Regions from separate parts of the Homo sapiens genome. Here region 1 is linked to region 2. Evidence: fine-mapped expression QTL. Tissue or cell type: nasal epithelium. Region 2 holds a variant in brackets; the other region holds the start of a gene. All regions are shown on one strand. Distances are between the middles of the regions.

Region 1 (8,106 bases), 90 kb before region 2:
ATCAATGACTAGGAAAAGGACACACAACCAGTGTCCCAGGGAAGAGTCACTGTGGATTAATAACTGCATAAGTCTATTTGACTTCTGGCCCTTGGCAGCTAGACAGGAGGGATAATGCTCTAATCCCAAGCTGCTCAAAAATGTGATCCTTTGGGCACAGCCTTGGTGTACCTTGGGCGTCTGTTAAAATCCAGAAGTTCTAATCTCTCCCCAGACCTGCTGAATGAAACTCTGAATTTTAACAAGATCCCCGAGTGAGTTTTAGACACATTACCATTTGAAAACCTCTGACCTTGTTCAGAGATTGGACTTCTGAACGTGGGGAAAAGGAGGAGATGATTACGAGCTCCTTGTCAGGGTGGGGAGGCTGGAACAAGAGTCCACTTCTGGTGACCCAGAGCAAAGGAGCAGAAGAAGGCAAGAGGACAGTAGAGTCGCTCAGTGCTTACTGGAGAGGAGGAGTCATATCCTGCATGTCCTCTTCTGCCCACCCACCTCAACCTATGGTGTGGAGTTGCTGCTTTCTCTTCTGAGAACTCCCCTCCCTCCATCCTAAACTAAACATGCTCAGGACCTTGGAAGGACTCTAACTGCTTCTCTACTAGCTCTTACACTTTTTTCTTTTTCCCTCTTTCTCACTTCCTATTCCTTCTTCCTTTCCTTCTTATTTATCCTAGACTTCTCTGGATTCGAACTTCTTCATCTGGAAAATGAGAAGTCATCTGTCCCAAGCTCCCACAGTTGTTCTGAGTCTCAAGTAGCATAACATAAGTGAGAATGTTTCATTAAGTACACTGTACATTATTAAAGTGAGAGATTAAATTATGTTTATAATCAAGGAGTTGAATTATCTTTTGAAGTCACGCCCCCAGTCCTCTACTTACCACCATGCATTCTTTCAATTCTGTTTGAACTGCAAGCACTGCAGTGACTTCGTCATTTGGACGTACTGACTTGGGAATGTCAAAATTCTTTATTATGATCTTCCGACTGATTGTGGGAAGAGAGAATCAGAACACCAGGATCAGAGACCAATCTTTGAGTGAGGGGGGAGCCATGAACAGGGCAAGGGGCACAGGATGGGCAAGGGAGGGAAATTATGGGGCTTGGATCAATTGTTCAGCATTGGAATCCCCTGGAATTTTCATGTGTTGATTGGATTGGTAACTTCACACAGATTTAATTTTGTTTAATAAAACAACTAGGACACTTTAAGATTCCTTAAAGAACTAAAAGTAGAACTACCATTTGATCCAGCAATCCCACTACTGGGTATCTACCCAGAGGAAAAGAAGTCATTATTTAGAAAAGATACTTGCACATGCATGTTTATAGTAGCACAATTCACAATTGCAAAATCATGGAACCAACCCAAATGCCCATCAATGAACGAGCATCTTCTTCCCTTCCATTGACCAAAAACAAGTTTTTAAAAAGAAAAAATGTACAATACCACATGCCACTTCCTGATAACATCCTACAGGCTCTGGTGGTTGTCTACTGAGTAGGAGGGCTCAAGTCATTATTAGGAGAAAATTTTCTAGCAACAGAATCACATTAAACCAGCAAACCTCTTGATCAGGGAAATGCAAATCAAAACCACAATGCGATACCACCTTACTCCTGCAAGAATGGCCGTAATCAAAAAATCATAAAACAGTAGATGTTGGCGTGGATGCAGTGATCAGGGGACACTTCTATACTGCTGACGGGAATGTAAACTGCTACAACCACTATGTAAAACAGTGTGGAGATTCCTTAAAGAACTAAAAATAGAACCACCATTTGATCCAGCAATCCCACTACTGGGTATCTACCCAGAGGAAAAGAAGTCATTATTCAAAAAAGATACTTGCACACACATGTTTATAGCAGCACAATTCACAATTATAAAACTGTGGAACCAACCCAAATGCCCATCAATCAACGAGTGGATAAAGAAACTGTGGTATATATATATATATATATATATATATATATATATATATATATATATATATGATGGAATACTACTACTCAGCCATAATAAGGAATGAATTAACAGCATTTGCAGTGACCTGTATGAGATTGGAGACTATTATTCTAAGTGAAGTAACTCAGTAATGGAAAACCAAACATCGTATGTTCTCACTGATATGTGGGAGCTAAGCTTTGAGGACTCAAAAGCATAAGAATGATACAATGGACTTTGGGGACTTGCGGGGAAGAGTGGGAGAGGGGTGAGGGCTAAAAGACTACAAATATGGTGCAGTGTATACTGCTCGGGTGATGGGTGCACCAAAATCTCATCACCACTAAAGAACTTACTCATGTAACCAAATACCACTTGTACCCCAGTAACTTATGGAAAAATAAAATAAAATAATAAAAAATTTTAAAAACCCAGCAAACATCTCAATGCACTGGAGGTATTTGTAGGAGCATCTTTGAAGATCCTCCTTCTGTGGTCCCCAGGTAGGGTTTAGGAATTTGTATTTATTTAGCTCCTTAGGAAATTTGGACATATGGCCATGTTTGGGAACTTTAGATACTACTCTACATTTAGACCATACACTGCAATCTGAAAAGGAAAGGAAATGGAGACAAATAAAATGGTCAAATGTTCTTCTTCAGTCAATGAGGACTGGGTTCGGGGCCAGGAGAGTTATTTTCTCGTCCCTAGAAACTCCCGGCTACGGACCTTTGTTATTGTGTGGGACAGAAGGGAATTGAGATTCTTAGCCCACAGTGTCTCACAGCCCCATTTTCTTGGGGCAAAGCATCTTAGAGAGATTCTATTTTTTGGTGCCAACTGCTGTAGTGCCCAGTGCACAGGAAAAGGGTATAAATACCTAAGCAACTTCAAAATCTCTCCCATTTGTATATGAGTTTCAGATTGATAGGATGACCAGCTTAGTTCGAGTGACTAACCATCTCAGTTTACCCAGGACTGAGGTCTTTTCCAGAATGGGTTGTGGAGGTGGCGGGGGAGGGCAGAGTTGCAGTGCTACAACCAGGAAAGTTCTGGGCAAATCAGGATGGATGGTTGATAACCTAATTAGCATAGCTTATTTGAATACCTTGCTGCCCTTCAGGGCTAAGTGGACTGTCATCTGGCGGGAATGGGGTGGGATCTGAACCTGTCCCCATGCAGGGTTTCTTGGGACACTTGCCTCCATTACATTAGCTTGTCAAAACCCTGAACAGTTTCCTCCAGGACAGGATATCTGACCATGCCATAGAGAGTACCTCCAAGATCACAACCCAGAAACCCAGCATTATAAACCCTACTGCTATAGAGAAAACTCCCTAGATTGGGTATCGCTGCTTTCTCCCAGACCCTTGGCTCCATTTTCTACTTTATTTTACTTGCTCCAATTTTTCTGCTTCCTTCACACATGTGTTCTCAATAAGTTGACTTCTGAACCTGTGCTCTCAGGTCCCAGTATACGTGAGAGCAAGAGGTCATCATATTCATCTTCAGACTTCAGGTTAGGAAGAATGTCTAAGCTGCCAGTCTAGCTCAATCTCAGACCACAGGGCAGTGGCCAGGGCCTCTGGTCCTTTAGCCAGTCCTGCCAAAGCTGCCCTAAGCTGCCATTGGAATTCACAGACCTGTTATGCTTCTCTTCTAGGAGGCAAGGTGTGAGAAGGTAAAGTTTACTGAGCAGAAATCTGAACAAAGGTATAAATTATGAACAAGATGTGGATCAGCATGTTAGATGAAGACTAACTACTAATTACAGCCTGTAGGTACATTTGGAGCTTTATTTCCACTGGCAATGCAGAAACACCCAGCAAAAATGTGAGAGGAGTTGGTGGGGCTTCCTAAGAGGACAAGAAGTGGAACCTGGCAGGAGATCCATGGGAGCTCCTGGGACTAGAGTTCTGGGAAGTTGAAAGAAATTCTCAGAAAGAGATATGTAATTTCCAGACTGGGAGAGGAGCCCTCCCTGCAATTTTTTTTGTGGGGAGGAGAAGGGCATGGCTCACGTGTTGTCCTGAGCTTTGTTGGCCCCCAACTGCAGGCAGAGAACCAGGAGCAGGGTGGCAGGGCTGGCCCTGAACAGGAGCTGGAGCAAGCGCATGCTGGAGAAAACAGAAGGCAATGTGTCCCAGAGAAGTGGTGTCCCAGGTGCCCAGCACATTTCTTATATACAGATTGATCAAGGAAGTGCAAGAGCTGCCAGGGAGATCCATGAGGTGAATCACCCATTCACCCTCCCCACTCGTGATCTTTCCTTGTTGACCCAAAGTTTGTTTTTCTAAGAAAAAATCAACACTCAGCTAGAATGTCAGCGTTTGAGAGAGGAGTCAGATTGTTCTTCCTTATTTTTTCAGCATCAGAGTTTCTCAAAATGGCTGGGACCTCAAAAGATACACCAGTTTTTCCCGAGTTTACAGATTCAGTTTTCTTTTCCCTCCTAATTTGCCTGTCTGAAGTGCTATGTGTAGTCTTAGCTTCAGTCACTGCTCCCCTGGTCTCTGAAAGCAGAGAACACAGCTGTGGTGGCAGGTTTCAGACCAGAGACATAGAACATCTTTGCTTGATCAAATTATAGTGAGTTCAAGATGCAATGCTATTCAAAACATTTCTTGGAGGGCTAGGATGATCAGGACTTCCCTAGCAGTCACTACCCATCATGAGGTGGAAGAGCTAGAGAAGACCTGAGCTGCTCTACATGATGGGGAAGTGAGTTCAAGACACTGGGTGATGTAAAGATGTTTATTGTCATTGAGTCCTTCTTAATTTCAGGTGTGGTTGCAATATACTGCAGATGTCCAAGATCCCCAGCTGCCCCACAATCCCCAAGGCAGGGTGATATTTTAATTCTAGACAATTCCTATAAATAGCTGGCACCCCCAAATCAGACTTCTTGGCACCAAAGAGCTGGCTTATTTTCTTATTGACATGGCCACTTTCTTACACTTGTCTCATGCGTAAGCCACACAGGAAGAACCACAGTGGAAAGGATTCCTTCTGTGAGAATGGAGCCCACATTATGTCCAGTAGATACCCAGGTTGTAGAATTCCTCTCCTTGGGATGATGGGGAGACTTGCTCTTGCTGACACTGGCATTGTGTTATTTCTCCTTATGAAATTAAATCTGCTCCTTAACCTATGACTTACAATACTATGGGATTTGTTTCTATCATTTGCATGGCACACAGCTGCCCAGGAAGAGCCTCTCTGGCAACAGAGTGAAAATCAGAGTTCTAGGAGTTACCGCCTCTGTATGTTGCTTTAGCCAGGATTCAGAGCTAAAGTGTAAGTGTGTGCTTCTGCTTTCTGGATGTATCTCTCAAAATTGCTCTGTCTGTTTATTCAGCTCCTGGATCTACCTTCTCTTTTCTTTGAATTGGACACCATTCATGTCATTGCTCACTCAGAACTTCAGCTGTTCTCATGATCACATGCTTTCTTCCCTGTTTATGTCCTATCCACTCAAGAACACTGCTTGTGAGGGTCACAATGACCTTCCTTTGTAAGCCTTTTCCCACAATTAAATTGTCTTTACACCTGGTCCTTCTCACTTGCATAATTTCCATTTGAAGCACATCCTAGCTACACTGACCAAGGCAGGCATAAGGCAGAAGAATCTAGGAAGTGTCTGTGTGGGAAAATGCAGGAAAAGTTCTTTGCTTGGCTCTTTGAAGGCATAGCCCTGTCCTTGAGGATGCAACTCCAGCACTCCCAAAAGGCAGTGTCCAGAGGAAGGCAGATGACGATGGGTTAAGAGCATCTATTGAAGGTAATGAGGCTGTTCTTCTGTGAGCTAGCAGGAAACTGCAATACCTACAATGTACAGGACAATCTTTTTTTTTTGAGACAGAATCTCACTCATCCAGGCTGGAGTGCAGTGGCATGATCTCAGCTCACTGCAGCCTCCACCTCCCGGGTTCAGGAAATTCTCATGCCTCAGCCACCCGAGTAGTGGGGATTATAGGCAGGTGCCACCATACCCGGCTAATTTTTGTATTTTTGGTAGAGATGGGGTTTCACCATGTTGGCCAAGCTGATCTTACATTCCTGACCTCAAGTGATCCACCTGCCTCGGCCTCCCAAATTGCTGGGATTACAGGTGTGAGCCACTGTGCCTGGCCTAGGACAAGTCTTATTCAGGCCATGACTGCTGTGATGGTTACTTTTATTTGTTAGCTTAGCTAGGCATGGTGCCCACTTTTTGGAAAAACAACAGTTTAGAAGTTGCTGTGAAGTTGTTGTTTGTTTGTTTGTTTTAAATGTGATTAACATTTAAATCAGTAAAATTTGAGTAAAACAGATTACCTCCATAATATGGGTCAGACTCATTGGATCAGTTGAAAGTCTTAAGAGAAAAGCTTGAGGTCCCTTGAGGAAGAAGATTAGGGAGAAAAAGAAACCATAATTATTATGCCATAAAGAATGAACAAGTCTAGGTTTAAGAAATCAGATAAAGGTTGATAAAATCAGATTGTAAACAACTCAGGAAGCTTACAGAAGAGAATGTGTATAGTCCCATAGGGAAAGAGTTAGAATATAGGTGAGGCTTGCCACAGGCTAAGTTTACAAAGAGAAAGATAATCTTAGTCCTGACAGGGCTCATGAGAAGAAGATAAGGAGTGGACAGAGAGGGAGTTATAGACACCAACACACATGAAGCATATGCTGTGTGCATTACACTGCTCTAAACATTTTAACATATATTAGCTCAATCTTTATTACAACCCTGTGAAGGTGGTTGCCATTTTTATTCCATTTTACAAGAGGAGAAACAGAGACCCAGGAGATAAATATCTAACCCAGACCATATAGCCAGTATATGGCAGAGTCAACTTTGCAAGCAGGTTTTGTGGAATCTGAGTTTTGATTTACAGTATCTGAGAACCTCTTTTTGAAATAGAATCCAAACTTACAAATGTAAACTACAGGTACAGGATCTTGGAGGAGGCACCCATAAGTAGGAAGCCCTGAGGCTTCATGCCATTAACTTAATGGCGAATACACCTTTGGGTGGGGCCAGAATTTCCACGCTGGCAGTCTGGCCCTGGAACATGACCCTTTAACCACTGCACTGCCTACTGGCGAGAACAAGTTGCAAAGTTAGTAACTGGCAGAGTTAGGGGTTCAAAATCAAGTAGTCTGATACCAGAGTTTATGTCCTTAAACACTTGTCTAGTCTATTTATTGATGTAGCAACAGTTTAAAGTTGAGAAAAGGAAACTCACAGAGGTTTTAATAAGTTGTTCAAGTCACAGAGCCAACAAATAACAAAGGTATTGAAGTTTGGCTTGGCCATATGACTAAGCCAAACCATTGGAACCCAGATAGAAGTGAATCCGGAGTTGGCACTTAGAGTGACTACTCTATATTTCCTCTTACTTAATAAAAGCATAATTGGCACAAGACTTGTAGAAGGGCATCTAATGCATACTGAAGATGTAAGATGTAATGAGTTGTTTCTTAGAGGAGGTTATATCCAAGCAAAATCTCTCAGAGGTGAGAGAAGCTGGAGTGTGACTCTTTTCTTAGAAACTCTGTCATCTTTAGTGTCATTTCTTTCTTTCTTCCTTTTTTTTTTTTTTTTTTTTTGGTGGAGTTGCACTCTTGTCACTCAGGCTGGAGTGCAGTGGCGCAATCTCGGCTCACCGCAACCTCCACCTCTTAAGTTCAAGTGATTCTCCTGTCTCAGCCTCCTGAGTAACTGGGATTACAGGTGCCTGCCACCACACCCAGCTAATTATTTTTATTTTTAGTAGAGACGGGGTTTCACCATGTTGTCCAGGCTGGTCTCAAACTCCTGACCTCAGGTGATCCACCCCCCCTTGGCCTCCCAAAGGGCTGGGATTACAGGCGTGAGCCACAATGCCTGGCCTTTAGTGTCATTTCTAAGGTCACCCTGGTGATGTAGGGGCCAAGGGAAAACTTTTTTTCTGCCTTCTGAAGTTTCACTGAGAAATAAACTGACAAAAAGTAGATTAATAGGAGAAATGGCATACAAGTTTATTAACGTGCATGGGAGAGAATGATGACCTCCAACTCCTCAGTGGGAGTACAGAAGCTCATGTACCATCTTGAGGTTACAAAAGAATGAGGTCTTGGAGCATGGCCAAAACCAGGTTATGGTAGTAAATCAGGTTACAGTG
Region 2 (8,106 bases):
CCTGTAGGCTGGAATCAGACAGAAAATAGTTTTCTTGAGAATTGATGTGGGTCACCTGGAGAATTGAAGAGTCTAGCAAGAGGGCACTTGCCTGGTGGTGGATGGAGATAGGAGCTGAATTAGGGCCCCTGAGTAAAATTGTGTGGCTTGTAGACTGTACAAAGGTGGTGATGGAGAGACTGAAGGGGCACATGGGGGCTGAAGGAGCTGCATCTACCTGATGGAAAGGGGCACCCATTTTATGCACAAAGATGATACACAGTACTTGTGCCAAAATGTCTTGCTTTATCCTCCCAACTGATCCCAGACAGTTTGCTTAGATGTCTAAAACAAATACAAATCATAGGCTTTATTTGATCTACTTGTCAAATAAGATTGTCACAGATGTCACATATGGTCACTTTTGCCATACTTTTATGAGTCCAAGCAACACAAGATTCAAGAGGCAGGGGCATAGAGCCATATCTTTTTTTTTTTTTTTTTTTTGAGACAGAGTCTCACTCTGTCACCAGGCTGGAATGCAGTGGTGTGATCTCAGCTCACTGCAACCTCCGCCTCCCAGGTTCAAGTGATTCTCCTGCCTCAGCCTCCTGAATATCTGGGATTACAGGCATGCACCAACATACCCAGGTAATTTTTGTATTTTTAGTAGAAACAGGGTTTTACCATGTTGGCCGGGATGGTGTCGATCTCCTGACCTCGTGATCCGCCTGCCTCAGCCTCCCAAAGTGCTGGGATTACAGGTGTGAGCCACCGCACCCAGCCAGAGCCATATCTTAATGGGAGGAGTGCCAAAAAATTTGTGGCCCTTTAAAAAACCTGTCATGGATAAGTCAACAAAATTTTCTTTTTCTAAGGCTTAGACTACTCTGTCAGATATCTGATCCTGAATGGAAAGAAAGACACTAACTCACCCCACTCTCTTTTCACTCCCCTTCTCAGAGAACAGGAGGCTGCAGTATCTGAAGTCAAGCTTGTTCTGATACTACACTGTATTTCTTCCTTTTTGTCCATTTATGAGGAAGGCAGACACATTGCCCCACTGGGAGTTTTATATCACCCAAGCTGCAAGCATCTCTGAAACATAAAAACAACAAAATATTACTCTGTCTATCACACATGCACATCGCGAGGCCTCAAAAACATCTTGCTTTACTCCCACAACTGATCCCAGACAGTTTGCTTAGATGTCAAACACAAATACGATTCATAGACCTTATTTGATCTACTTGTCACTAAGCTTAAAAACCACACAGCACAGTCTTGATTTTTGCATATATCGTAATACGTCTCTTAAAATGTGTGATAAATTTTTGTGTAACACATTCTGTTAATGAATGCTTATTTTTCAGTTAACCATTTAGCTCTCAAAAATTAGAGAAAAATTTATTTTAACAAAAAAAGCAAGACTTTTTAAAAAGTTTCTTTATCTGTGAGGTTTTTCTTGGTAAAAGAATCCATGACTCTTGGAAAATTTGGTAAGGGTTATACAACTTATGTTTTTCTTTACATAAATATTCCTACATATCTGAGCTCAAAGCATTAGTAAATGTTTGTGTGATATAAAAACTGATCCTAAAACCTGTTTTCTATTAATATTCTAATTTTTCAGAGTAAGGAAGGGGTGGAGCAAGGCAAATAAATCGTGAATGATATGGGCTGCAATGGTAGACAAATGACAAATAGGGATGTCTCCTGCACCTGGCTGGAATGGCTTTCAATCCTTAATCATATTGACAATAGTGGCTGCATGGTGGCTCATGACTGTAATCCCACCACTTTGGGAGGCTGAAGCAGGAGGATTGCTTGAGCCCAGGAGTTCGAGACCAGCCTGGGCAACATAGTGAGACTCCATTTCTACAAAAAATACAAAAATTAGATGGGTGTGGTGGTGCGTGCTTGTAGCCCCAGCTATTCAGGAGGCTGAAGTGGGAGGATCACTTGGGCCTGGGAGTTCTGCAGTGAGCTATGATTGCACCACTGCACTCCAGCCTGTGTGACAGAGGTAGACCCTGTCTCAAAAGAAAAGAAACAAAACAAACAAACAAAAACATTGATAGTAGCTACTAACACCAGCTACTGCATGGTAGAGTTTGAATTTGAATCAGATCTGATCCCAAAGACTCTGCTCTTAATTTTTATGTCATTTTGTCTCACCAACCTAAACATAATCCAAACTTGTATATCATTACATTGCTTATTGATTTATATTGATTATATAAAAGATATCTTGCTGATTGAATGAGAAGAATATGAGAGACATAGGAGAAAAAAATCACATGTAATGACTACAGATTTATTCTGGAGTTAACCTGTGAGGGAGAATTATTATATTCAGTTTTTAGATAACAATGTAGAATCTCACAGAGCTTAAGTAAATGTCAGTGTTTCTCAGTCATCACATGTTGGGGCCTGAGACCGAAGCTCTGATTTCACCCACTTCACACACTGTCCTTTCCCTCTATATCATGCCAAGAATAGTAATGCTATGACTGTTTCAGATATTCTGTAGCTCAGCAGTGACAGAAACTGTGAAACTGAAATTACTTACATTATTTGATAAGCTAAACCCAAAATTCATGAGGAAGAGAATAAGTAAAACAAACAAACAAACAGAAACCCAGACGTTTATAATGGACAAATAATTGTTCACTCATATTTGTTGTCCTTCCTGGAGGTGACCCTCCCAGTGGGAATATCACATATTTTTGCTCCATTAATTCAGGAGTGGTCGAGTGATTTTCTTCAGCCAGTGAGATATGGGTAGAAGTAATGAGAGTCACTTCATAGCAAGAGCTTTAAGGGTTGGCATTTGAGTCACATTCCCTTTTTCTCCACATCTGAGATCATGGAAGAATGTGTTTAAAGGGAGCTTTCTACTGCTCCAGTCCCTACAGTATAATAATGAGCAGAGTCTACTTCCTGGCTAGTGATGGGCGCATGGCATGAGTGAGAAACAAACATAGTTGTTAAAAGCCGTTGAAAGATTTGAGTTATTGGTGACTTCAGCGTGACCTTGCTGTAGCAGATGTTGTTAGTGTTACATTCTAATCCCTTAAGTTTCCTTTCATCGTTTCTGTGTTAAGCCCTATGTACCTTTGTGGTCAGAGATAAAGAAAGGCCAAGGTTCACAGGAGAGAGCCAGTGTGGATGCGAGAAACACAAAACCAGAGAGGCGAGGTGTTAGAAAAGCAGTAATGGAGAGAAAGTGAGAGACAGAGAGACACAGGAGGCCCAGGAATGCAGACAGAAAGCTAGAAGGAATAAAAGGTAACCCAAGAGAAGCAGCAGAAGTGACAAAGAAAAGCAGAAATTGTGAGCAGAAGGAGGGAGGAAAGGCAGGCAGGACACGGGACTGAGCATGGCCAGAGGCTGAGCACAGAAGCCAGTCTAAAGCACCCCTGTGAGGCTTTCTAGATGCCCCTCTGCTGAGAACTCTCACTCAGCCACATATTTCCAGCTTTCAGCAGCAGCAGCAAAGCCATTCAATTCAGGAAGCAAGGGGAGCCAGAACAGAGAGACAATAAGATCCCTTTGGGGTGACCATCTGCTACATGTTTACAATGGCTGAAGGCAGAAAGGGAATCAAGATATTTAGATTCAAGCTCTGGAATCCAGGCAAGACCCATTGGATGCTGCTGCTCTGACAGTCCCTGAAAGATGTGTGTGGTATGTGGATTGCACTGGACTTCTAGCTCTGCTTCTTAAAATGCTGTGACTATCCTAGTGGACCACCCTTCCCTGACATGACTCACTCTTGTATGGGGGCTGACGGCACAGACCTTGGACCGTCTAGGTTTATATCCTGGCCCTGTGAATTGCCAGTTGTATGACCTTGGGCTGATACTAATCCTCTTGGAGTGGAATTTTCCCCAGATGTAAGATAAAAAATAGTAGAGCTAGCGTGAGCATCAAATTGGATTATGGCTGCCACATAGGAAGAGTTCAATAACAGCAGTTTCCGCTGTTGTTATTGGCATGGAAACTTCATTCTCATCATCTCCCCTTCTAACCCAACCGCCAACCACACTTCTTTAACGTGAAGGTGATGGGTTTGTGTGTGTGCGTGTGTGTGTGTGTGTGTGTGTGTGTGTTGATGCATCTATGTATGGGTCCAGCAGTGTGCTGGCTGCACACTTTAATTATAGTTAACTGAATGAATACCTTTAGAGATCCATAAGTAGTAAATAAAATCAGAAATGAGAGCACACAAATGAAGCCCTGAGAAGACACATGTTAGCTGTCTCTCTGGAACCACAGGTATTTCCTAGAACTGTATCCTGGCCATCAGCAATGACATCTAATCACAGAAGTGGATCTATCTCCCTAAGCAGTAAGCATGCAACCCTCTCACTAATCTTAATGCCAAGTCTAAACTCATCTTGACTAACCGAAACCGAATCCTTATAACTCATTCATTCTCCAGACCCAGCCAATGCATCTTAATTCATAAGTCCAGCATGGCGAGCTTTTCTTATTAGGTCATTTACTTCGGCGGCTTCCTGACTGTGGTACCCAGATTTTGACACGGAGACATAAGCCC[C/T]TTGGGAATGGGGCAAGCAACCCTGGCCCTGCTTTGCAAGTGACTCCACAAGTTAGAATCTGTCAGCAACTTTCATTGAGTCTGTGATGAAGAGACTTACTGTTTCTCCCTATACAGCCCAGGGCAGCAGTATCCATGACTGATGTCAGGCTGGAGATAGCATGGAGGTGGCAGGGAAATCCAATGAGAATGATTCTCTTGCTGTTCTTTGCTCCCAGGGATGATGGTGCTGTTCACCCACTCTGTTTTGAAACCTTTGGGTCTTGCTGATTTTAAGAAATGAGCTGGGCCAAATGGGAAACTTTAGACTCCAGCAGGGTGCTCCTTGTGGGAACAAGGGAAAGCCAGGAGTCCTTTGGGTTGTACAACGCTGATGCTTAAACTAACAATGGGTACAGTCAGACAGCAACAAGAGGCAGATGAGGACTGGGTCCAGCACCTCAGTTGTGTGTGTGTGTGTGTGTGTGTGTGTGTGGTGGGGGGCTTTGGAGTTCGACCTGGGTTTGAAATGTAACATTTACATAGTAGTTGTTGACTAAGCATTCATTAAGTAAATGTAACGCAGATAAAAATCTGGAATTTTATTCAATAAAAAATCCCCAATATTATGGGGATAGTAATGCCTCCCTCATAAGGTTAATTTCAGAATTAAATAAAACATGTTATGTAACACACTAGTACAGGTCGTCTTGGGGTATAGAAGAGCATGGTAGATGTTAGTAAGCTGACAAGAGCAAGCTAAGTTTGTTTAGCAATGCTCTTCTCCAGCCCTTTCCTGCTGTCTGGCCTCACTATCCCAGTGTTACAGGATGGAGGAGAGTCTGAAGCTTCAGGATCCCCAGCTGTGAGGTCCCCTTCCCCCTTTCTCCACTGCTCAGTCCCAAGGGGCTGTGTCTCCCTGGCACTCCAGCAACCATCCCAGACACTGACGTTGTCATAAACTGCACACTTACGCTCATGGATCCTCTTCATCATGTCCAGAGGCACATTTACTTATCATTATTGATAAGGACATGCCACACTCATTGCTGAGGTATTTATTGAGCTTTTACTGTGTTCCAGTATGTAACTTATTCACCTTAAAGCATCTGTCTTTGATTATAAGACTGCTGATCTTCAAAAGCACATTTGTGAGTCTCAGAATCTCAGGGTTGCCAGGATTCTTGAAGGTCACTCCACTCAACCTACTGGTGCTTCATTCCCTGCTGACAACAGCTGACTGCCTCCTGTAGAAGGGTGGTCTAGGAGTTCCCGGTCACTCATGTCAACTCAGCTAGTAAACTGCAGCATGACCTTAACAAGTCACTCGATTTCTGAGTTTCAGGCTTACAATATGTAAAACGAAGTGTTGGAAAACATTATCTTTCCATTGCTGATATTCTTTGGCCCTTATTAATATCATAGTCATTCTAATCTCTTGTTTCTCCACATCCAAATATGGATGCCCTCTGTGTCCCAACCCAGATAGAGGAGGAGGTATTTTTTTTTTGCCATGGCAGGCCTCTAAGTTTGTTTTTTGGGGGCTCTCTCTCTCTTCTCCCTTCCTTGTCACCACCTTCCCTTTGTCCTAGAAATATGTATTACATTCACAGAATATCTGGAAAAACCAAAACCCTGGATCTATACCTTATGCTTCCAAAAAATAATAAATTCCCGATGGCTCAAACAGACTTAAATGTAAAAAGTAAAAAATGGGATTTTTTGGTTTGTTTTTAATTTCCTTGGAGTATGAACATAGGCTTTTCAAAGGAAAACACGGATCCCGGGAGTCTAAAAGACTGTTAAGTGTAACTGCCTAAGGATGAAATATTTATGCAAGATAGAAACAAAACATAAAAACAGAAACATGAAATAAAGATTTGTTTGATTTATGCAAAATGTTCTCTTACAAACCTGTACATTCATTAAAGAAAACTGCAAATGATTTTTTAAACATGAAAAGAACTCAATCTCACTGTAAATTAAAAAAACAAACTTTAATAAGAATTGTTTTTGAATAACTGTTATTTTTTAGACAATGTACTGAAGATACAGCAGTAAACAGAGTGGACATGGTCTCCCCACTATGGAGCATATTTGATGAAGACCGATGTTACCATACGCTATAAAACCAGGTAAACACACACACACACACACACACACACACACACACTTACAAAATAGTGAGTTGTTTTGAGCAAGAAACTACGTGGTTGTCTTAGATCTGGGAGTGATGAGGGAGAAGATGTTTGGACAGACCTGTGATGAGGTCACAACAGAGGCTTAAATCCTACGGGGAGCTCTGAGCTAGGACGGCTTTCCAGAGTTGTCCTGAATTGTGCCCAGAGTTGTCCTGAACAGAAACTTGGGGCCTGGGCATTATACTTCTGCATCCATAGGCCATTGGATGCAGGCTACCTTAGAGGAAGGGCTATAATCTTGGGGAAGGTGTTTCTCTTTGATTGGGAGCAATTTGGGGGTAATTAGCATCTTGGTTCTGAATGGGAGTCCGGGCAGCGCACTGCAGCATTTACTGTAATATCTGGAAAGCCCCTGGCAGGGAACCTGAACATGGATATGTCTGTGAGGTTATGGGAAGCATCTATAGGAGTAATCATTAACTGGTATCTGGTGCTAACTAGGCACAGCATGGTGGGAATCACAATGAGCACTCTGAGAGATGGAGCAGCGTGCCATTACAGGAGCACAAAGGATGTCAGTGTCACTGAGCAGAGGAGTGACACAAGATGACATTAGAGAAAGGTATTTCTAGAAATCATGCAGAGCCTCACAGGTCTCAGGACTTTAACCAAATGGCAGAGAGAAAGGTTTTAATCCGGGGAGAGACCTGATCTAGTCTGTGTTTTAAAGGATCACGCAGGCTGCTATGGGGAGAACAGAGTAGACAGAGGGAAGCGAGGGTAGATGTGAAGGTCAGTTAGGAAGTTTTGTGGCAGGTCAGTAAGGTTTGTTCCTTCTCATTTCCTGTTTTGTGGGTAATGTCTCTGCCACTGGGGTAATAATCCTATCTCTAATAACATACATTATTAATGCAACCCTATATAGTGGATAGGTAATAACCCTATCTGTTCTACTAGTTTGCCAGAATGTCCTTTTCTTTCTCTGGGCCATGATGACTTCTCTTACCTGTGTCCGAGTATACTTATGTGGGAAAGTCAAACATAGACATGGAATGGCCTTGAGCTTAAGGATATTCAGCAAACACTTCTACTCACTTGTAAAATCATTAATCTAGGATAAGTTTATGTACTAGATCTGGTGTGGACTGTAATGGCCCATGATGTTATCTAGAGAGAACTGATTCAGACAAAAATGTTAGCTTTGTGGAGGAGTTCCATCCAAAGAGTCATGAGTGGAGAGTCCTCATGTTGGACTGAGAGGCTCAGGTCACCATTAAGAAGAAAGCTTGAAAACTAGCTCCATGGCTGGGCGCGGTGGCTCACGCCTATAATCCCAGCACTTTGGGAGGCCGAGGCGGGCGGATCACAAGGTCAGGAGATCGAGACCATCTTGGCTAACACGGTGAAACCCCGTCTCTACTAAAAATACAAAAAATTAGCCGG

What was found. PIP is the estimated chance that this variant, and not a neighbour inherited with it, causes the effect.
Region 1: it holds the start of PIP, and the variant in region 2 is fine-mapped to the expression of PIP in nasal epithelium (TOPMed, PIP 0.98). The same link has a PIP of 0.9 or more in lung.

Annotation. Positions count from the first base shown.
Region 1 is chr7:143,128,078-143,136,183 of GRCh38, reverse strand. It overlaps PIP (prolactin induced protein), which reads right to left and starts at 4,107. Exons shown (of 4, transcript NM_002652.3): 1 at 3,973-4,107; 2 at 885-990. The coding sequence starts at 4,067.
Region 2 is chr7:143,037,943-143,046,048 of GRCh38, reverse strand. LOC105375544 (a long non-coding RNA gene) reads left to right here and starts at 5,117. Exons shown (of 2, transcript XR_001745395.1): 1 at 5,117-6,657. The variant C/T (reference allele first, on the strand shown) is at 4,544.